4 linked regions of the Homo sapiens genome follow. The protein of the gene in region 2 purifies or fractionates together with the protein of the main gene of each other region. This does not show direct contact. Each region holds a gene or a part of one and is shown on either strand. Other genes may lie near its edges.

Region 1 (4,477 bases), on a different chromosome or scaffold from region 2:
GCCAATCAAAGGCCCAGGCTCATCTACCTGGTTGCATCCTATCTCTAATCAGGGGATCTCATGCTTCAACCAGCAGGAAGGAGAAAGCAAAAGGTGTATGTTTCTCTGTTTTGAGAAGACTTCCCAAAGGCTCCACAAAATGCTTCCACTTATATTTTACCAGCTAGAACTTAGGTACACAGCCATATCTAGCAGCAAGAGAAGCTGAAAATATGGAATGTTTTAGTTAGCAATGTACTCAACTACAAGTCGTATAGCCCTTTTCGTTCTTATCTCCCCAATTTCCCTCTCTCGATATTGCAAAATTCAAATGTTCCCTTGCTGCACTTTTTTTTTTTTTTTTTTGCTTTTTTTTTGAAAGGGGGAGGGTAACATTTGGGCATTGAAAATGCAAAGCACAAAGAAATATGCAAAACCCCATCAGAACTATCTAAAGAATTAATTCACAGGAGGCCTTCAATTCCTAACATGGGCTCACAGTGGTCCGCCCTGCCTGTCTGTCTACTGTGCAGCTAGACATCCCCAGGTGCTGCATCAAGGAGGGAGACTGACTTCAGGGCAGAGGGGAGGAGCCTCAGAGCCGTCTGCTCACTGGACAATTCCTGAGCCTCATGCTCCTGAACGATGAAAGATGGCTCAATCTCCTCTTCCTCGATCTCGGAAGAGACATGGAAAGCACTTGGAAATTCACAGCCAATCATGACTGCTGGATTTGGCCACTTGGGCTACAACCCTAGCCTTGGGACCCCTCTGGGGCCAATTCTCAGAGTACCTTTGCTGTAAATGTCATGGTATAAGGGACATGCATTTAAGGGCTCAGTAAAGTTTGAATAAAATGTTGACGAACTCAAGGAACATTACAAGATTTGAAGGAACTAGGCACTGAAACCCAAGGTAAATGGCTTCAGAACTGACTCAAGTAGATATTGTTTCAGGGGAAAGTATTCTCCATCATCATTTCAAAGTCTTCCCAAGAAAGCTTTGTGCTCCCTACAGGAAGTAGCAGAGCACACTGTACACTCTAAGTGCTCAAAAGTGGCTTTTTAAAAATAATTAAATTGGTATAACACGATGAGACTCCTGGTGATTTTTATAGCCTTGACCACATGTAACTATCAAGCAATTACAATAAGCTGCATTCAGCAAGAGCTATAAAGTTATTTGAAAAGAGCTTCTAGCCTGGGCAACAAGGCGAGACCCCGTCTCTATAAAAAAATTAAAAAACTGGCCATGTATGGTGGCGTGTGCCTGTAGTTCCAGTTACTCTGGAGGCTGAGATGGGAGAATGGCTTGAGCCCAGGAGGTCAAGGCTGCAGTGAGCCATAATCTTGCCACTGCACTCCAGCCTGAGTGATTGAGTAAGACCCTGCCAGAAAGAAAGAGAGAAGGGGGGGGAGGGGGGGGGAGAGAGGGGGGAGAGAGAGAGAGAGAGAGAGAGAGAGAGAGAGAGAGAGAGAGAGAGAGAGAGAGAGAGAGAGGGCTTCTTGGTAAAAGAAATGGTTTCACAAAGAAAGTTCTAAAGCTCTCTATTCTTTTTGTTTTGTTTTGAAATTGGGAATAGAGAAGCAGGCCCTCACTCAGAGGCTTGTCTCTTTAGTTTGCATACATATCCAATAAACTTGGATATCTGGTTCTCTATGCTTCCACCATCCCCAGCTTATATTATGTTAGAAGCAGAAAATATAAATGGCTGGGGCAAATAGAATGGGAATATGGGGAACTTCTGCCAGCAGTTCTATGCAACAGCTTACAGTTAAAAAGAGTAAACAGAGGCTGGGCATGGTGGCTCATCCCTGTAATCCCAGCACTTTGGGAGGCAGAGGCAGGTGGCTTGCTTGAGCCCAGGAGTTCGAGACCAGCCTGGGCAACATGGCAAAACCCCGTCTCTACCAAAAATTCGAAAAATTAGCCAGGTGTGGTGGTGCACACCTATAGTCACAGCTACTTGGGAGGCTGAGGTGGGAGGATTGCCTGAGCACAGGGAGGTTAAGGATGCAGTGAACCGAGTTTGTGCCATTGCACCCTAGCCTGGGCAATGGGATTGAGGCCCTGTCTCAAAAAAAAAAAAAAAAACAGTAGTCCGCTCTCCCAATCACAGAAATCTGTGACACAAGAAATCACAGACACAAGTAATCCTATAGCCTCAAAAGCTCGGGAGGATTGTCAGAAATTATAGTGCAGAAGAATAAAGGATTTATAAAATACTCAATATCAAAAAACAAAATGCTCATTATGGGATACTGAAAAGATACATTACAAAATTTCCAACCAAAATAGTTGTTTAAAGGAGATAAACCTCAGATACCTGAAAAATTTACTGATTCAGTTTCTGCTTATTCCTCCATTACGGAAGATAAATGTGACTATATAATACAGTCTAATATGTAGTTCCTAATGCAACTGTTTGCCTGTTTCCTGTCAAAAACAGTATGGATTTCAGGAGTTGAAATATTCTTTCAAGAAAACTTATCATACCTGTCTTTCAATTTGTATGCTATTATTTTTAATGAAACCTTAATCTTCCCACCATCTGTGTTCATCCTGCCTGAAATGTTATGGCATGCCTCATTTTTTACCATGAATTATGGTTCTTTAACACAGCTCAGCTCTTTCCTGGGCTGTATTTATGGGCTGGGACTACATCTTCAGTTGCCTCCAGCTAGGTGAAGGCTAACAGAAGCTTGCATCTTTCCCAGTAGAACATGGGTCACTGAAGCAAGATTCATCCTGGCTCACGAGATGCATCTGGCTATAACTGAGGGTCTATTTTGAGGAGGTGCTCAGCCTTACTGTAACATTGAGAGGCTAAGTTTTCTCTAGCATGCCCTCCCCGCTCCTCAGGACAGTTACTGGAGAGTTGGAGAGTCTAGCAGTGGTGCAGGATCCACTCACTTGGGTCTGCAGATCTGAGATCTTCTCGGGGCGCCACTCCTTTGGTCTGCTGCTTGGAGTGCTAGCAGAATGAATGGATTTCTGCAACGTCAGAAGATCAGGGCTGTCGGAATTGGGTACCTAGAGCAAAATATGGACAAGCATTCAATAAGCACACTGAGAAGCCTAATTAAGATATGCAACCACACCCAAGAGGAGAACCAAACTAAAAAGCAAACCAAACCAAAACTCAAATAACCCAGTAAAAATAGAACCCCAATCTCTCCCAATGTTCACAATGCAAGTGATGCTAGTTAAATTCTTCTGCCCTCTTAATAATTTTCCCTGCATTAGGAAAAATTGGCAGATGTCATGCAGCTTTGTTAAACCTCAACCCTTAAAGCATTCCCATGCTGTTAGTTTTAGTCGCTGTAAGAGAGAGCAGTTAAATAGGGCTGTACCAGGAATTGCTGTCGTATCCTCATTCCATATTGCAGTTAGGTTGTGAACCAGTTCAATAAAACAGAAATTTTTTCCTGCTGGGAAAATGATCCAAACACTGTATATGGTAGTGCCAAAGAAGTCTGGTAGGCTTTCAAGGATAGCAAAGTGAGAAAGTATGGTTTGGATCATATTCCCAAACCACTGTCTGATATATCTGGATCTATCATTATGTACTAGAGAAATGCTGGAAATCTGTGCCACAAATTCCAGATGAATGCAATTGCTCTATTCACCAGTTTTGGTGAACACAGAAGAGTAATGTCAAATGCCAAGCAAAAGCCCTGGTTTTAAACTGACCAGCAAAAGCTCAAGCCAGACAAGGAAACAAGCTGTTTTTTCATGGAGCCTGTTAGCTCATTCAATTTGGTCAATTCAACTTGGCTTCAAAAAGACAAATTGCCAATCAAGTGTTAACAAACTCTGTGAGTCAAATGCAAAGATATTTGTTAACTGTAAATGTTAACAGAATTCCTTACATAAAATACAGGCTTTTATAAATGTTATCTGCCCATAACTGGCTAATCAGACATGACAAACTAGCCTTTCACTAGTTTGTTTGCTTAATAGACTTTGTGCTTCAACTTTCTTAACTGATTCAGAAGAATGGCAATGAATTTATATCCCAGTGAATTTATGGAACTGGCTCACGTACTTAACTAGCATAAAGAGAATATGACCTCATGAAAATAAGACATGCTGTTGTCATCAGTAAAACAAGTTTACTGGAGCAGTTTTCAGGGCTACCATACATAAAAACGGGTACCATGGGTGGAGTGACTACAGGAAGCTTTTTCAAAGAAGAACTATGCTTTAAATGATTCTTTGAATTAAAAAGAGGAAAGAGGGATTTCTTGATGCTTGGATTCTCCCCGTTGGTGGAATCTGTCTGCAATATAAGATACAAATAAACTAATTGCAAAAAAAAAAAAAAGTGCTCTTATTGAAACTACTAGCCCTTGGAAGCCCTCAAATTGCTAAATATTAACAGTCACTGAAAGAATCTCGGTGCTGTGCATCTAGAGCTTCTGTGCCAATTCTCACCTGGATGTGAAGATGTCAATAATGCAAATTCAAGACAAGCACAAACTTCTTCTAAGTATAT
Region 2 (5,867 bases):
AAGAGTTTAGGGATTCGTCTTAAAATATTATTCAGATAAACGTATGAGTCATGTGTTAACTGCAAAACTACTTAACAGCACACTTGTTAGAATATCAGTCGGCACTCTGATTCCATTTCGGCATTGTTTTTCCTTTGGTTCTATTAAGATCCCGGTTCTAACTGGGTCCTGGTAGTAACAGGCTGTAAGTGGCCAGGTGTATAGCATTATTTCTTAGTAGTGTGGTGTGGTGCTGGTGGTTTATTTTCCCTATGCACACATGCCCTAATATGGAAGGATAGTTTGTACACACGTAGGGTACGTTATCATGAGACTCCTTTACAGAGTATGAAACTGAGGATTAGAGAAGTCAGACGAGTTTCCCGAAGTCTTATAGAAGGCTAATGGAAAAAACCAGAGCCAAGGGCAAACATGTTTCATCTGTCCTTCCACATTAGTTTAAATGTGAATGGCTGCTTGGAACACAGTGTTGAGAAGGATTCCGAGGCTGTGTCCAGGTTCAGTGGGGAAAAAGTGCCTTGATTTGACCATTATATCGTGTACTCAGGGCCTAGTTTATTTCCCACAAGCAGCTATTTAAAACATGTCTCATCCAAGGCAGGGTCGGGGTGGGGAACCTCAGAGGATCAATGATGCAGCCTGTATTGTCACCAGGGCTCATCCCAAAGCAAATCCTGCTGAAGTTCTCCTCTGAACAACCCTTATCACTCATGCTAATATGTTGGATCCTGCAAGTCACAAATACGAAGGTATGAGCATTGGCCGAATCCCAACAGGGAAACTTCACCGGGAAGGTGAAGACCCCTTTCCATTAAGATAACAAACAGAACCTAGAAGGCCCGTAGCATGGTGGCTTAGAACATGTGGGCCTTGGATGGGATCCTGCCAAGGGGTGTGTGACCTCTCCGAAGCCTCCAGGGATGATACTACTCCCTGGGGTGCTTATGCCAACCACGTTAGAGACAATGGTTTCTGTACCCATTGCCTGGGGCTGCCATAATAAAGTGCCACACACTGAGTGGCTTAAAACAACAGAAACCTATTGTCTCACACTTCCGGGGGCCAGAAGTTTGAAACCCAGGTGTGTTAGGATCCTGCTCCCTCTGAAGGCTCCAGGGAAGAGTGTCCTCTGCTCCCTCCGAAGGCTCCAGGGAAGGGTCTGTCCTCTTAGGCTTCTGGTGGCTTGCAGGTGCAGCCCTCCAATCCTCCTCCCCAAGCGGCCTTCTGCCTATAAGGACACGAGTCATACTGGATGAGGGGCCCACTAATTGATGGCTTCTGTAAAGTCCCCATCTCCAAATAAGGTCACATTGTGAGGTACTGGGAGTTAGGACTCCAACATAGCTTCTCTGGTGGACACAATTCAACTCCTAATAACGTCCACACAACCCCAAGCAGGGCCTGGCACCCTGTGTGCTCTCTGGAGAGCGGCTGAGTCAGGCTCTGGCAGTGTCTAGGCCATCGGTGACTGCAGCCCCTGGACGGCATCGCCCACCACAGGCCCTGGAGGCTGCCCCCACGGCCCCCTGACAGGGTCTCTGCTGGTCTGGGGGTCCCTGACTAGGGGAGCGGCACCAGGAGGGGAGAGACTCGCGCTCCGGGCTCAGCGTAGCCGCCCCGAGCAGGACCGGGATTCTCACTAAGCGGGCGCCGTCCTACGACCCCCGCGCGCTTTCAGGACCACTCGGGCACGTGGCAGGTCGCTTGCACGCCCGCGGACTATCCCTGTGACAGGAAAAGGTACGGGCCATTTGGCAAACTAAGGCACAGAGCCTCAGGCGGAAGCTGGGAAGGCGCCGCCCGGCTTGTACCGGCCGAAGGGCCATCCGGGTCAGGCGCACAGGGCAGCGGCGCTGCCGGAGGACCAGGGCCGGCGTGCCGGCGTCCAGCGAGGATGCGCAGACTGCCTCAGGCCCGGCGCCGCCGCACAGGGCATGCGCCGACCCGGTCGGGCGGGAACACCCCGCCCCTCCCGGGCTCCGCCCCAGCTCCGCCCCCGCGCGCCCCGGCCCCGCCCCCGCGCGCTCTCTTGCTTTTCTCAGGTCCTCGGCTCCGCCCCGCTCTAGACCCCGCCCCACGCCGCCATCCCCGTGCCCCTCGGCCCCGCCCCCGCGCCCCGGATATGCTGGGACAGCCCGCGCCCCTAGAACGCTTTGCGTCCCGACGCCCGCAGGTCCTCGCGGTGCGCACCGTTTGCGACTTGGTGAGTGTCTGGGTCGCCTCGCTCCCGGAAGAGTGCGGAGCTCTCCCTCGGGACGGTGGCAGCCTCGAGTGGTCCTGCAGGCGCCCTCACTTCGCCGTCGGGTGTGGGGCCGCCCTGACCCCCACCCATCCCGGGCGAGCTCCAGGTGCGCCCCAAGTGCCTCCCAGGTGTTGCCCAGCCTTTCCCCGGGCCTGGGGTTCCTGGACTAGGCTGCGCTGCAGTGACTGTGGACTGGCGTGTGGCGGGGGTCGTGGCAGCCCCTGCCTTACCTCTAGGTGCCAGCCCCAGGCCCGGGCCCCGGGTTCTTCCTACCCTTCCATGCTGCCAGCTTTCCCTCCGCCAGCTGCTCCAGGAAGCTTCCAGAAGCCCCTGCGCGGGCCTTGGCTTGCAGCAACCCTTTAGCATACTTAGGCAGAGTCCCATATTTCCTTCCTGCTGGAGGCCAAGTTCTAGGGGCCTTCTGGTTACTATGGCTGGTGTTTGTGTACATCATACCCTAACTGTATTCATCAACACTTAGAGTAAGCAAGGCTCGCTGGAGAGCCACACACACTGGGCACCGTAATGTCGGTTATAACACCGCAGAGGAGTTCTGAACTATGTATTTCGCACTCCTGGGTTCATCATCTCCTGAAATCTCAGGGTGGTGTTTGCTCTCAGTTGCTTCAGCTGAGTAGCTGGCTTTCTGTCCTGGAAAGCAGACTTTGTACATGTGTGTGCAACCTATGCCTGCTGAGATCATCATCAGACAGGGAAGCGGCTTGGTCCAGAGAGCTGTTCTCAGTAGAATGTTAAGCACAGAGAGCTGAGAATTAGACTGGTTATTTACATAGACATCCAAATAGAAACCTATAGAGTATCTGTTAAGTCAGGCTCTCCCGTCATCTCCCCCATCCCTGGGCAGGTGTCTAGGAGATGGTTTTGTTATTTTCAGGGCCCTCTCAATGGCTAAAACACTCTGGGAGATGAACAAGATTTTAAAAACCCAAAGCTTAGCGCACCTGGTGGGTGGGGGTGTGAAAACTTTGAAGGAAACCGCGTCAAGAGCCTGGCTGATTGTTAATATCACGTTAACTCAGAGGGCCAGGATACTTGCCCAGACCCGGAGTCTGCCTGCAAGTAGCAGAGGAGAGCTGGCCTTGCTCTGCCGCGTGTCTTTCTTCCTGGGCCCTCTGTCTCGGGTTGGAATTTGAATAGTGGAGTAGTGTCTGCCACAGTCAGGGGCCTGGATGAAGTAGACCACCAGTACGGAGCTATACTCAGGTACTTTTCAATGTATATATCTTCATTAAAAAAAAAAAATCTGGGCCAGGCACAGTGGGTCACGCCTGTAATCTCAGCACTTTGGGAGGCCGAGGTGGGTGGATCACCTGAAGTCAGGAGTTTGAGACCAGCCTGGCCAACATGGTGAAACCCAGTTTCTACTAAAAACACAAAAATTATCCAGGCGTGGTGGTGCATGCTGGTAATCCCAGTTACTTGGGAGACTGAGGCAGGAGAATTGCTTGAACCTGGGAGGCGGAGGTTGCAGTGAGCCGAGATTGCGCCATTGCACTCCAACCTGGGCGACGAGAGTGAAACTGTCCTGAAGGGGAAACAAAAAAATCTGTATCAAAATAAGGATTTAACTAATAGTATTAGGCACTACTTTAAAAAGGCTTTGCTGTTAGTAAGGTTGAAAGAAATAGAGCCCTAGGTATACATTGGGTAGCACCTTGTTCAGCTGCTCAGATTCTTGAACCTTGTTGAGGTCTTACTTTGATATCACCTGGGCCTTACTTTTCGTTGTTTGGGTTTCCTCCCCAGGTGTCTCAATCAGGGCCTCCTCTGTCCTTTTGCAGGGAAGAAGGGGGTAGGAAGGGCCTGAAAAAGAACTTGCCTTCCCCATTGCCCCCTCAGAGTTTGTTCCTCTCCAGTCCTCTTCCCACCCTTTCTTAGGACACCAAAACCCTGACTCTTTCAGTATTTTATAATAAAATAAAGTTACTAAATTGTCTGTTCTGTTTTGCAGAGGACACACATTTAGGAGCCAGTGATTCAGACCTTCCATTTTTCTTTTTGGTGCTAATGCTCTTTTCAGTATATTCTCTTTGATAGAAAAAAAATGGAGGCAAAACTGAATTTTCTGCATTATCTTTTCCTTTAGCATTATTCTTGTTTCTGCACTTCATTCTGACCCCCTTCCCCAGCATAAAGTTCCATGTCCAGATCCACTTGCCCTGAGATTTTTGACTTCCGTTTGGGACTCTAGTCCCTCCAGGGGACACATTGAGCCTCCCAGACCCTGCAGGGCCCTGTGCTCATTCGGCTCTTGGGCTGTTGCTACGGTCCTTCCTGACCCTCTGTTTCCTGGGACAAGTAGTTTTTAATGCAGCTACTTTCTGAAAGAGCTGGGGTCTTACCGCAGAATATTATTTTATTATTTTTAGAGACAAGGTCTTGGTCTTTCGCCCAGGCTGGAGTGCAGTGGTGAGATCATAGCTCCCTGCAGCCTCAAGCTCCTGGGCTCAAGCGAACCTCCTGCTTTGACCTCCCAAGTACCAGGGACTACAGGTGTGCGCCACCATACCTGGCTAATTGTTGTTGTTGTTGTTTTTAGAGGCCAGGGTCTCCGTATGTTGCCTAGGGTGGTCTCGAACTCCTGGACTCAAGTGATCTTCCCTCCTAGGCCTCCCAAAGTGCTGGAATTATAGGCATGAGCCACCATGCCTGGCCTCGCAGGATATTATTTAAACGAAACCTGAAGGATTTAAAATCAGAGAAGACACATAAACCATCACCTGACTGTGGGGTGAGAGTGGTCTTTATATAGACACTCATGATGCACAAGCCAGCCCTTCGCCCCACTCTTGTTTTGAAGTGAAAGGATTTATATGGGAGGGAGGAGGTTTGAGCTGTGCAGGAGGGTCCTTGGTTGGCATGAGGATTTTGTGAACCTACGCTGTTAGCTCTGCAGGCCTGTCTTGGACATAGGTAAGTAGAAGTTGGAGACCTTGTGTTGTGGACCAAATGTTGCAAGATGTGTGTTCTGTGGCTTTTCATTAACTGCTGCATATCTGCTGGTTGGTGGACATAGTCTAGTTTTCTTTTGACTTAAAAAAATTAACAGTACAGCTTATATCGGAGGGCTGCATAGTTTGGGGGAAACTAATGAATATAGTATGGAATGTAATGAATGACTGACTTCTTCATAGAGCTATTGAAGTGATTTATGAAGAGGAAGAAATCATTTTTGTGACTTTGTTGATCTTTGAAGTATTAGAGTGGCTTTGGCAGGTGTGGATCACCCGGAAAGGAATCAAACACTGAGTCCTGCCAAGGTGCTCGGTCCCGGCAGCAAAGCCAGTCCTCAGCAGCCTGCGCTCCCGAAGCTCCTCCAGCTAAGTAACTGAATAGGCCGCCCTGGGAGCTGCCCATGCGGATGCTCTGAATGGTGAAACTTGGTTTTGACACCACAAGTTGTTTTCAGTTAAATCAGTGGCTCAGCAGCAGAGCAGGGTTCTCCAAGGAGGCCTCGTGTCCCCTTCACCCCACCTGGAGGTAGCTGTTCTAAAACCAGTAAAAAATTCTACAAAAACATTTTCTTAGGGTTGTTAAATTAGTCATAGTGTGTGTAACCATGAAAGGAATGGTGAGAGTGCAATAAATGCCTGGTGTGTTCACT
Region 3 (4,477 bases), on a different chromosome or scaffold from region 2:
AGTGGTATATGTTGTTATATGTATTTTAAAAAATACAAAATTGGAAAAAAAAATAGAGTACAGTAGACAGTGATGCAAAGCCATACAAAAAAATTAAAGAACACTGGTAAGGGCACTTACATAGATAAATAGAAAAGTCATATTTAACCAGGCACAGTGATAGGCGCCTGTACTCCCAGCCACTTAGGAGGCTGAGGCAGGAGGGCTGCTTGAGCCCAGGAGTTCAAAGCTGTAGTATACCACAATTGCACTTGTGAATAGCATCTGCACACCAGCTTGGGCAACACAGTAAGACTCCATCTCTTTAAAAAAAAAAATGTTGTATTTTTGGTCTGTAACTACTTTCTTTTCTGTGTGATTTAAAAGACAAATGTATAACATAATGATAAATCTATGTTAACTGGCACACAATGTATAAAGATGCAATTTGGACAATAAATAACATAAAGGGGGAGAGATAGAACTATAAAGGAACATAATTTTTATTTATTATTGAAGCTAATTTGGCCTTAAACTATATTGATGCAGATTTAAGATGTTATTTGTAGGCCAGATGCAGTGGCTAACACCTGTAATCCCAGCAGTTTGGGAGGCTGAGGCAGGCAGATCACTTTAGGTCAGGAGTTTGAGACCAGCCTGACCAGCATGGTGAAACCCTGTCTCTACTAAAAATAAAAAAAATTAGCCAGGTATGGTGGTGCACGCTTGTAATCCCAGCTACTTGGGAGGCTGAGGCAGGAGAATTGCTTGAACCCAGGAGGCAGAGGTTGCAGTGGGCCGAGATTGTGTCATTGCACTCCAGCATGGGCTACAAGAGTGAAACTCCATCTCAAAAAAAAGATGTTATTTGTAAACCTAAGAATAATCATTGAGGAAAAAACTTTTAAAATACACAGAAGAGTAAATGAGAATCAAAACAGTACTTTAGAAAAAAATGTCAATTAAACACAAAAGAGCAGTAATGAGGAATTGAGGAGGAAAAGATATAAGACATACAGAAAACATAGCAAAATGGCAGAGGTCCTTCCTTAACAGTAATTACTTCATGTGTAAATAGATTAAACTCTCCAACCAAAAGGTAAAGACTGGCAGAATGGATAAAAACAAAACAAAACAAAAACCAACCACATGATCTAACTATATGCTGCTTACAAGAGATCCACTTTAGATCCAAAGACACAAATAGGTTAAAAGTAGAAGGATTTCATGCAAATAGTATTCCATGCAAATAGTAACCAAAAGACAGTTGAGATGACTACACTATCAGACATAGATGTTAAGTCAAAATCATTACAAGAAACAAAGAAGGACATTATATTTTACTAAAAGCATCAATCCAACTGTTATCAACAGCCCACAAATTTATCTTCAAACCTCCCTCTGCCCACAAATCTGGGCCAAGTACACAGAGTCCCTACCCTGGCACCACCATGAAGCTGGGAATCATGACATACTGAAGCACAAAAGCCCTCCTTGTGGTCCTTAAAGATGTGAGTCAGGTGTGCCACACAGGTGCGCCACTAGTCAGCTGGGCTAGTCCTTCTTCCAGAGACCTCAGTCCCTGTATGTTCATGAGAGGCTGCTGCAGCTGTCTCATGGCCTTCCCTGTCCACCCTCTCCCAGGGAGGGCAGAAGGCTCTCCCATTCCCAGGTGCCCTCTCATCCCCGTGCCCCCTGGAGACTCACTGTCACAGTGCCTTTCCTAGGTTTCTAAGCTGTCTCCCCACATAGGTCTGGGAACTCCTCCAGGGCAGGGAATAGTAGGTGAATGCCTGCTCCTCCTGCCTTCAAGCAGGAAGTATGCTTCAGCTGCTTCCTTGGTCCTAAAAAGAACCCGAGCCCCGGGAGCCGACCCGCTCTGCAGTTCCACAGGCCGGGCCCAGTGGGCTCCATCTTGTGCTTTGCTGTTGAGTAAGAGGGCCTTGGGCACATTACTCAGCCTTCCTGAGCCTGTTTCATCATATGCAAAATGCAGATTAAAAACCTCTATCCACCTGGTGCGGTGGCTCACGCCTGTAATCCCAGTACTTTGGGAGGCCGAGGTGGGCGGATCACGAGGTCAGGAGATCAAGACCATCCTGGCCAACATGGTGAAACCCCGTCTTTATTAAAAATACAAAAATTAGTTGGACGTGGTGACGGGTGCCTGTAATCCCAGCTACTCAGGAGGCTGAGGCAGGAGAATTGCTTGAACCAGGGAGTCGAAGGTTGCAGTGAGCCAAAATCATGCCATAGCACTTCAGCCTGGTGACAAAGCAAGACTCTGTCTCAAAACAAACACACACACAAACAAACAAACAAACAAACAAAACCCCTGTTTTCCCACAGCTGCCATTGTGAAGCTAAAATGCCATTTGGGACTCCATGAAAATGCTTCTTCCTTCATCTGCTTCCCTGGACTGCCTCTCTCCTCCTCTCTTCCTGCCAGTTCCTTCCCTATCCTGAAAGATCCACGGGAAATGGGATGAAGGCTGTCCCTCATGTCCAGGGCTCATCAGGAAGCCCCAGGTAGGCAGAGAAAGGAGGAGGACTGTGGACCAGGCCCTGGGGTTTGCAGAGCAGGGAAGCCTCCCGAAGGAAGTAGAGGCTACACTGAAGCCTGAGCAGAAGTCAGCCAGGCAAGAGGGGAAGCCAAGCACTCCGTGGACCTTTCAGGACCGGGAAGGATGTGGCAGGAAGAGAGGAGGAGAGGGCAGACCAGGGAAGCAGAGGAAGGAAGAAGCATTTTCATGGAGCTCCACATGGCATTTTAGCCTCTCATCGGCAGCTGTGGGAAAAGAGGCTTTTAATCTTCATTTTACATATGAGGAAACTGAGGCTCAGGAAGGCTGAGTAACGTGCCCAAGGCCCTCCCACTCATCAATAGCAAAGCCTGGGCTGGAGCCCATTAGGCCCGGCCTGTGCAACTGCAGAGCTGGCCGGTTCCCCAGGGCTGGGGCTTTCTTCAGGACCAAGGAAGGAGCTGAGTGTACTTCCTGCTTGAGGGCAGGCAGAACAGGCATTCACCTACAAGACACTTGCTCCCAACAGAGGCCACCCACAGCTGGAGGTGGGTCAGCGTTCAGAGGGGCAGGAGAGGAGGGGGTGGTGAGGAGGTCCCATCAGCCAGAGGCCTGCCTCAGAGGCCCCCTGAGGGAGGACGCCCCTGGAGGGCTATGGGGGCCCAGGCCCTGGCACACAGCAAACACTCAGCGAATGGACTTTTCCTCTCCTAGATCCTGCCCATCTCTAATGGGCGTTTGAACAGGCTCTCAGGCCAAGGGGCTCTAAAGGGGGTCTCCTCCAGCCCCTGGGATAGAAGAATGTCTGTCCTGATGCTGCCCTGAAGCCTGCCTCTCACTCACACACACAGACACACACACGCGCACGCACTCATATGCAAACATGCTGGTCCGTGCAGCCTCAGGGTGGCCAGGCAAGGCTGAGCCATTGGCCTCTGGTGACCCTGGAGACCGAGAAGCTGCTGGCCAAGCCCCCATAATGCACAGCCCCACAAGCCCTACGGCCTGCTGCCAGGCCCACCTGGCTCAGGGCCCACATTCCTGGCTCCTGCTCTGGAGGCCAGGAGCTCATTAGAGCCTCAGACTGATCACGGGGAAGGGCTGAGGGTCAGAGGCCACTGTGGCCCTCAGTAGGAAGGGGGGCTGGAGGACTCAGCTCGGGCCAGCACCTCTGCTTCTTCCCATAAAATCCCAGGGGGCTCCAGCTCAAGCCTTGTCACCCCCCGCCCTCCAGTCACTGCTCCCCAAGGCCCTAAGAATAAGTTGGGCTCAGGGCCCTTCCTGGCCTGGCTTTGGGAGCCTTGCCAACCTCCTCTCCTCTTCCCCAGGGACCTTCCCACACCTGGGCCTTTGCACATGCTGTTCCACTGCCTGGGATCCAGAGATGTGTGTAAATAAACTCATTTCTGCCCAGTGGGGTGAGCCAGTGAGAGAAGGAAACCCCAGCTGGCACAGCAGAGGGAACAGGTTTCAGACTAGGCCTCAGCCTGGAGGGCTGGGTTTGGAAGCCTAGGCAGGAATTTTCCAAGAGAACACCCTGGGGAGGGTGTCCCACGGGTAAGCATATGGATGAGGGGATATGGCCTGGGGAGGACAGGCCACCCAAAGAGGTGGGAACACTGACCTGCTGAAGAATCACCATGGTCCCAAGTCAGGAGCTCCTGCTGCCCACTGGGCCAGGCACAGTTCTGCAGGGAGAGAGACCATGTCATGCTTCTGGGCAGGCCAGCCCTGGAAGCCTTGAGCCTGGCTGGGGTCACCTGGGCTCCTCCCAAAGCCCCAGCTCCTCCTCCCTCAAGGGAACCCTCCTTGGCTTCTCTCCCTCTGACCACTGCCCAGCCTGTGTGACCTGAGCCTCAGCCACTGTCACCAGCACCACTGCCCAGAGCAGCTGAATTCTTCTCTCAGCCACTGTCATTCAGAGATTCCCAAAGGGCTCCTAGAAAGTAGCAAGTCTGGCCCCACCAGGGACCTAC
Region 4 (5,024 bases), on a different chromosome or scaffold from region 2:
CGTTTCTTTAAGTCACAGCATGACATCATGATTGCCTAATAGGTTCCGCTTCTGCTCAATGACCCAAAGAAATACCATATCAAATGTGTGAGCTTCCTCCTCCGATCTTCACATCAATCCACCCCTTTCCTCTTTCTTCCTGTAATTCACCGGCATCAGTCCCCTTGCCCCCTCACTCTTCACTCCCCACAACCAAATCAGATTTCATTGTTAACCCTGTTTTACTAATGGCCCTCTTTGATTTCTGAATTTACAAAGGGAAAACACATATTCCAAGGTAAAATATCTCAGTGGATTTGGTTTCTCAAAAGGACTTGTCTAATTACACACATATGCAAGGGTAACTTCAGAAATTTATTCGTATGTCTTAATTCACAGAAACATTGGCATTTTACAGCAAAACAATTAGCATAATGAGAAATAAGTCACTGAGTGAGATGTGGTGTTTTGTCAGGTACACAGCTCTGTCTCTGGGAAGAAGCAGGGTTCTGGCAAGGGTCTTTGGTTTGGCAAGGGTTGTTCCGGACTTGTAGGAACATTTGGTGGCACCATCCAGAAGGATTTACTTGCAGCTGATTTTGTGGGGTTTTTCTTGGTCTCCTCGTGCAATAAGCACAACTTCAACTATTTTCATAACATTTCTCTTCAGCTATTTCTGTAATATTTTTCTAATAATCTGGAAAAACAGAAAGTAACAGATCCCAATGAGTGGACTTCTTGGTTCTATATCATTTCTCTATGGATCCCAAGTGGAGCTCTGGAGGTGACCTTCCCCTCTTCCCATCTGCACTACTCAGGGAAGCTCTGGCTACCATCTTGCCCTGACCCTGTTTCCCTCTTGACCAAGGGGTCCTCTTTAAATGGTGGAATAATCTATGTGGCTATGTGTTGGGCCCTCTGGGGTGGTTCTTTCCCACTTCTGATGGGCTCAAGAAAATTTTGATTTTTGTCATTTATCCAGCTTTTGTTTCATGGTTTGACTGAGAGTGCCATCCTTTACTGGTTTCTACATATGAAGGAGAAGGGTTGTTTATGAGATGTTTCAAAATTTACGGGAAACATTTAACAAAAATGGCCACATGTTGAGCTTCAAGGCACAACATAATAAATTCCTGTGGGTTGCAGTCCCAGAGTATGTTCTCTTGTCCACATACTCGGGCGACTGGAAATCAATGGAAAAGGAAAGCAATGGGAAAGTGAGCACCTGCTCTGAAATTCAGCAATACACTTATAGAAAAAAATGCTTAAAATGCCAAGACTTGGGACCCAGAAGAGAGCACAATGAAAGGTAGCCTATATTAATATTAACATGAATATAAATATGCTAATCTTTTGAGGAAATAAGCCTTATCTGACTTCTACTAATGGTTGCCAATGTTCTGTATAACTTGATGTTAGGGACAAGGTACATATTCTAATCTTAGCTTTGGATTCATATCCCTAAAAGATCATGATTACAAGCAATGCAAACAAAAACATCAGGTAAAGAATCACACTGCCGTTCCTTTAAACACCAGGTTGAATATAACAGGAAGGCTGCTGTGGGTTCAGCTTGGGTCACTCCCCCCACATTGGGTCAATGACTGTTGCTCATAGACTGCAGGTCACTCATTGGCTGTACCACTGTACACTAGGGCATGAGCTGTTTCCGTGGACACTCCGTAATCCTACTGACACACACCTGGAAGTAAGGAAGGTTTCTGTTCAAAAAGAAATGAAAAAATTACTGTCAGTACAAAAAGAGAATGAATTACAATAGTGGTCTCAGAGTCGGGGAAGCTGGAAAACGAATGGATTCTTGAAAATTTTATTTAGCCATATATATACTGTAACTGGGCCTCGTTTGCTTATTTACATGGATTCATGATGAGAGAGATGCTGAACACATTTAGGAGGGTTACCTTGCTTCTTGTATCAGCATATTCACTTTCTCTGTTGCCATATCGCACATAATGAAGTTCTGGAAAATCCCACCATCCAGTCGTAGGAGAATGAGAGTGAAAAAGGTAAACATCAGTACATTGATAACATCATCATAAAGATAACCTAGAAAGATAACTAAGAAAAACGGCCATTTGGGAAACTGAGGACACGAAACACGATTACGGAAACACCCCCTACTTTTCCTTGGAGCATATTGCACTACAGATATATTGGAGTTGACAGTGTTTTGCACTGTGGGAAAAATGCTTGAAAAACCGCAGGAGGCCACACGGCACATGCCCCCCAAGCTGGAACGGTGCCACCCACACCAACCTCCGGTGGGGTCCCCCCCTTGGCGGGCCACTGGCCTATAGGGCCACGGGCGGTGGTTCTGAATAGAGCCTTTGGGTTTCCCAGGTGCTCAGGCGCTCCTGAGACAGCTCACTTGCTTTTGGTGTACCTGAGGGCGGCATTCGTGCCCTGGGCCTCGGCGAGCTTGCCCATCTTCCCCGGCAGCAGCAGTCGCACGGCCATCTGGATGTCCCGGGAGGTGATGGTCACGCGCTTGGTGTAATGGGCCAGCTGACCAGCCTCGGTGGCGATGCGGTCCAATATGTCATGGATCATAGAATCCATGACACTCACGGCCTCCTGGGAAAGGCTGAGGCCCTGGTGAACCTGCTTCAGCACCCGGGGGAAATAGGGGGTGAAGCTGTCCCCGAAGCTGTCCCCACGGCGGTTGGCGTGGCGCCTGCGGGAGCCTCGGCACCCTCGCCTCTTCTGCTTCTGGGCCTTCGTGGAGTTGGCCTCTTTGGGCTCCTGGATGCTCTGGCCTTCCTCCGAGGTTGTCTCAGAGGAAGCCTCAGCCATGGCGGAAGCAGCGGCCATTAGATAGCAAGAACAGAGAGTGACGGTTGGGGACCAGGGAAGTGGGGGGCACTTTGGTATGGTCGCATGGCTCTACGTCACATTCCAACTCGACATCTGATTGGATGAAGTGTCACCAAGGGCGCCTCTCAGCAATCTTCCCTCCATTGAAGGTGATCGGATGATCCTGTTGCTTGGAATCATGTCAGCCAATCACAGAGGGCGTCTGCCCGCCTAAGTGGCCGGGTTGCCTACCTCAGACAAAGGTACACAGAGTCTTGCTCTGTGGCACACCTGCAGTGCAGTGGTGCGGTCTCAGCTCACTGCAACCCCTGCCTCCTGGTTTCAAGTGATGCTCCCTCTTCAGCCTCCCAAGTAGCTGGGAGTAGAGGCGCGTACCACCACACCTGGCTAAGTTTTGTATTTTGTGTGTGTGTATGTGTGTGTGTGTGAGAAACATGGTTTCTTTATGTTTCCTCAGGCTGGTCCCAACTCCTGGACTCCAGTGATTCTCCTGCCTTGGCCTCCCAAGCTGCTGGGATTACAGGCATGAGCTATTGTGCCTGGCAGAGAAAACTTATTTCAAGAAAATAAAACATGATGTTGATACCCATTGAAGGATGCACACTACAAAAATCTGAGAACATTTATAAACTTGGTTACAAAACTCATACCTGAAATATTATAAATTAAATCACATTACACACACACACACACACACACACACACACACAAAGGGAAACAGTTTACTGCTGTAAATAACAATTTAGAAGCATCAAACGGGGCAAACATTACTAATGGAACAAGCAGACCTCATATAATCTTTTTTCAACATTACCTCTATTATACAATTCATTTAAATACATAACAAAAACCCACAGTGCAGAAATAGCTAAATCAAAAATTCAATGAACAGCACCCCTTTCAAGCTTCCGAGAAAATAAAGTAAGGACTCTAACTCATTCACATTTGTCTAATTCTATTGTTTCCCAGTCTACAATCTTTTTTAATGCAAAGCTTAATGTCCTGTGAGTATGCATCACTTACGATGGAAGTATCCAATGAGAGCACCCAAACCCCACTCTCCACTGGCTCAACTAATGAAGTGTCTTCAGCCCTGGGCCTGAGCCACTGGCTCAGAATGTGAGCAGGTGACCAGTCCTGAACCAATAAATGCCCTCCTAGCTGTTCAGCCTTGTAAATTGAGGAGAAAATTAGTTTGAGGTTTTTGTCCACTTTTTATTTCTTTGTTTGATTTTTCGTTTTATTGTAATTGTGGTGAATTAAAGATTTGAATCCAAAGCTGTGAGTAAGCATGTCTCCTACCTCTGGCATCATATTATGAAGGCAAGTTCTCTGAAAAGGAATTTGGAGGAAAGAGACTATTCCTGTGAACAGCTTGCACACCAGGGAGGGGCAGACTTCAGTGTAAAACAAAGGCGAAGTTCCAGAGAACTAAAAGAGGATATGGCTTTTATAGAGAAAGTTCCCATCGAGGTTCTCAGTACAGTCCATTCATGCAAATAAAGGATTCAAAATTAGTTCTGATTGGTTGACTCAGTTGATCTCTGATTGGTCAACACGACTGAGCCCTGATTGGCAGGGGCAGGTGAGCTCTGGCTGGTTGGTTCAGGTGACCTCTGAAAGTTGCAGAGTTAGATAGAGGTATGGGCTTTTGGGGAATTCCTAGTACATGTGTGAGCTCTAGTCTGCACGTGGCAGCTTGCTTGGCTCTAGTTTAGATTTAGGCTCAGTCACTGGGATCCATCTGGAAAGACTGGCTCTTTTAGGTTTACATTTGTCCACAAGTTTAATAAAATGATAGTGACCAATTAAAAAAACTAGGACGACTCTCCTTTTTTTTTCAATTTGATTGTTGTGGGGCTTTTTCACTTTCAGGCACATGTGTCTGACAAAATTAACCCACTATGGTAATTTGAGACAATAAAAACACTTACTTCAGTACAAAGCTTTCTCCAAAATATGATTGGCCCTGATTCTTGATGCAATATAATAGTCTTCCCCTTTCATTAGACTGTCACTCTGCAATAAGGGGGAAGGAGTGTGGAAGTGAGTGGGGGCACAGAAGAAGCTGTAAAGGGTGGCTATTTCCTCTTTTTCCTTATCCCAGACATTTTCCCTAGTATAGTGACCATGTGTCCTGATTTCACCTGTTGTCCCTTAGTAATTCTTAACAGCATCCCCTTTCACTCTGAAACATGTCCAAATTTACA

Evidence for each region.
Region 1: the proteins of MGMT (region 2) and CDKL5 purify together in Homo sapiens (affinity purification with mass spectrometry, with the first as the bait; one study listed by BioGRID). This does not show direct contact.
Region 3: the proteins of MGMT (region 2) and MYO7A purify together in Homo sapiens (affinity purification with mass spectrometry, with the first as the bait; one study listed by BioGRID). This does not show direct contact.
Region 4: the proteins of MGMT (region 2) and H2BW2 purify together in Homo sapiens (affinity purification with mass spectrometry, with the first as the bait; one study listed by BioGRID). This does not show direct contact.

The regions. Positions count from the first base shown.
Region 1 is NC_000023.11:18,623,663-18,628,139, reverse strand, and holds part of CDKL5 (cyclin-dependent kinase-like 5), read right to left. Parts: intron 3,013-4,477; coding exon 2,893-3,012; intron 1-2,892. UniProt on the Homo sapiens protein: Mediates phosphorylation of MECP2. May regulate ciliogenesis.
Region 2 is NC_000010.11:129,465,094-129,470,960, forward strand, and holds the start of MGMT (methylated-DNA--protein-cysteine methyltransferase), read left to right. Parts: upstream 1-2,147; 5' UTR 2,148-2,203; intron 2,204-5,867. UniProt on the Homo sapiens protein: Involved in the cellular defense against the biological effects of O6-methylguanine (O6-MeG) and O4-methylthymine (O4-MeT) in DNA. Repairs the methylated nucleobase in DNA by stoichiometrically transferring the methyl group to a cysteine residue in the enzyme.
Region 3 is NC_000011.10:77,130,301-77,134,777, reverse strand, and holds part of MYO7A (unconventional myosin-VIIa), read right to left. Parts: intron 4,190-4,477; 5' UTR 4,144-4,189; coding exon 4,126-4,143; intron 1-4,125. UniProt on the Homo sapiens protein: Myosins are actin-based motor molecules with ATPase activity. Unconventional myosins serve in intracellular movements. Their highly divergent tails bind to membranous compartments, which are then moved relative to actin filaments.
Region 4 is NC_000023.11:104,037,764-104,042,787, reverse strand, and holds H2BW2 (histone H2B type F-M), read right to left. Parts: upstream 2,833-5,024; 5' UTR 2,812-2,832; coding exon of another isoform or gene 2,794-2,811; coding exon 2,384-2,793; intron 1,961-2,383; coding exon 1,924-1,960; 3' UTR 1,902-1,923; intron 1,701-1,901; 3' UTR 1,682-1,700; exon of another isoform or gene 677-1,681; 3' UTR 334-676; downstream 1-333. UniProt on the Homo sapiens protein: Core component of nucleosome. Nucleosomes wrap and compact DNA into chromatin, limiting DNA accessibility to the cellular machineries which require DNA as a template.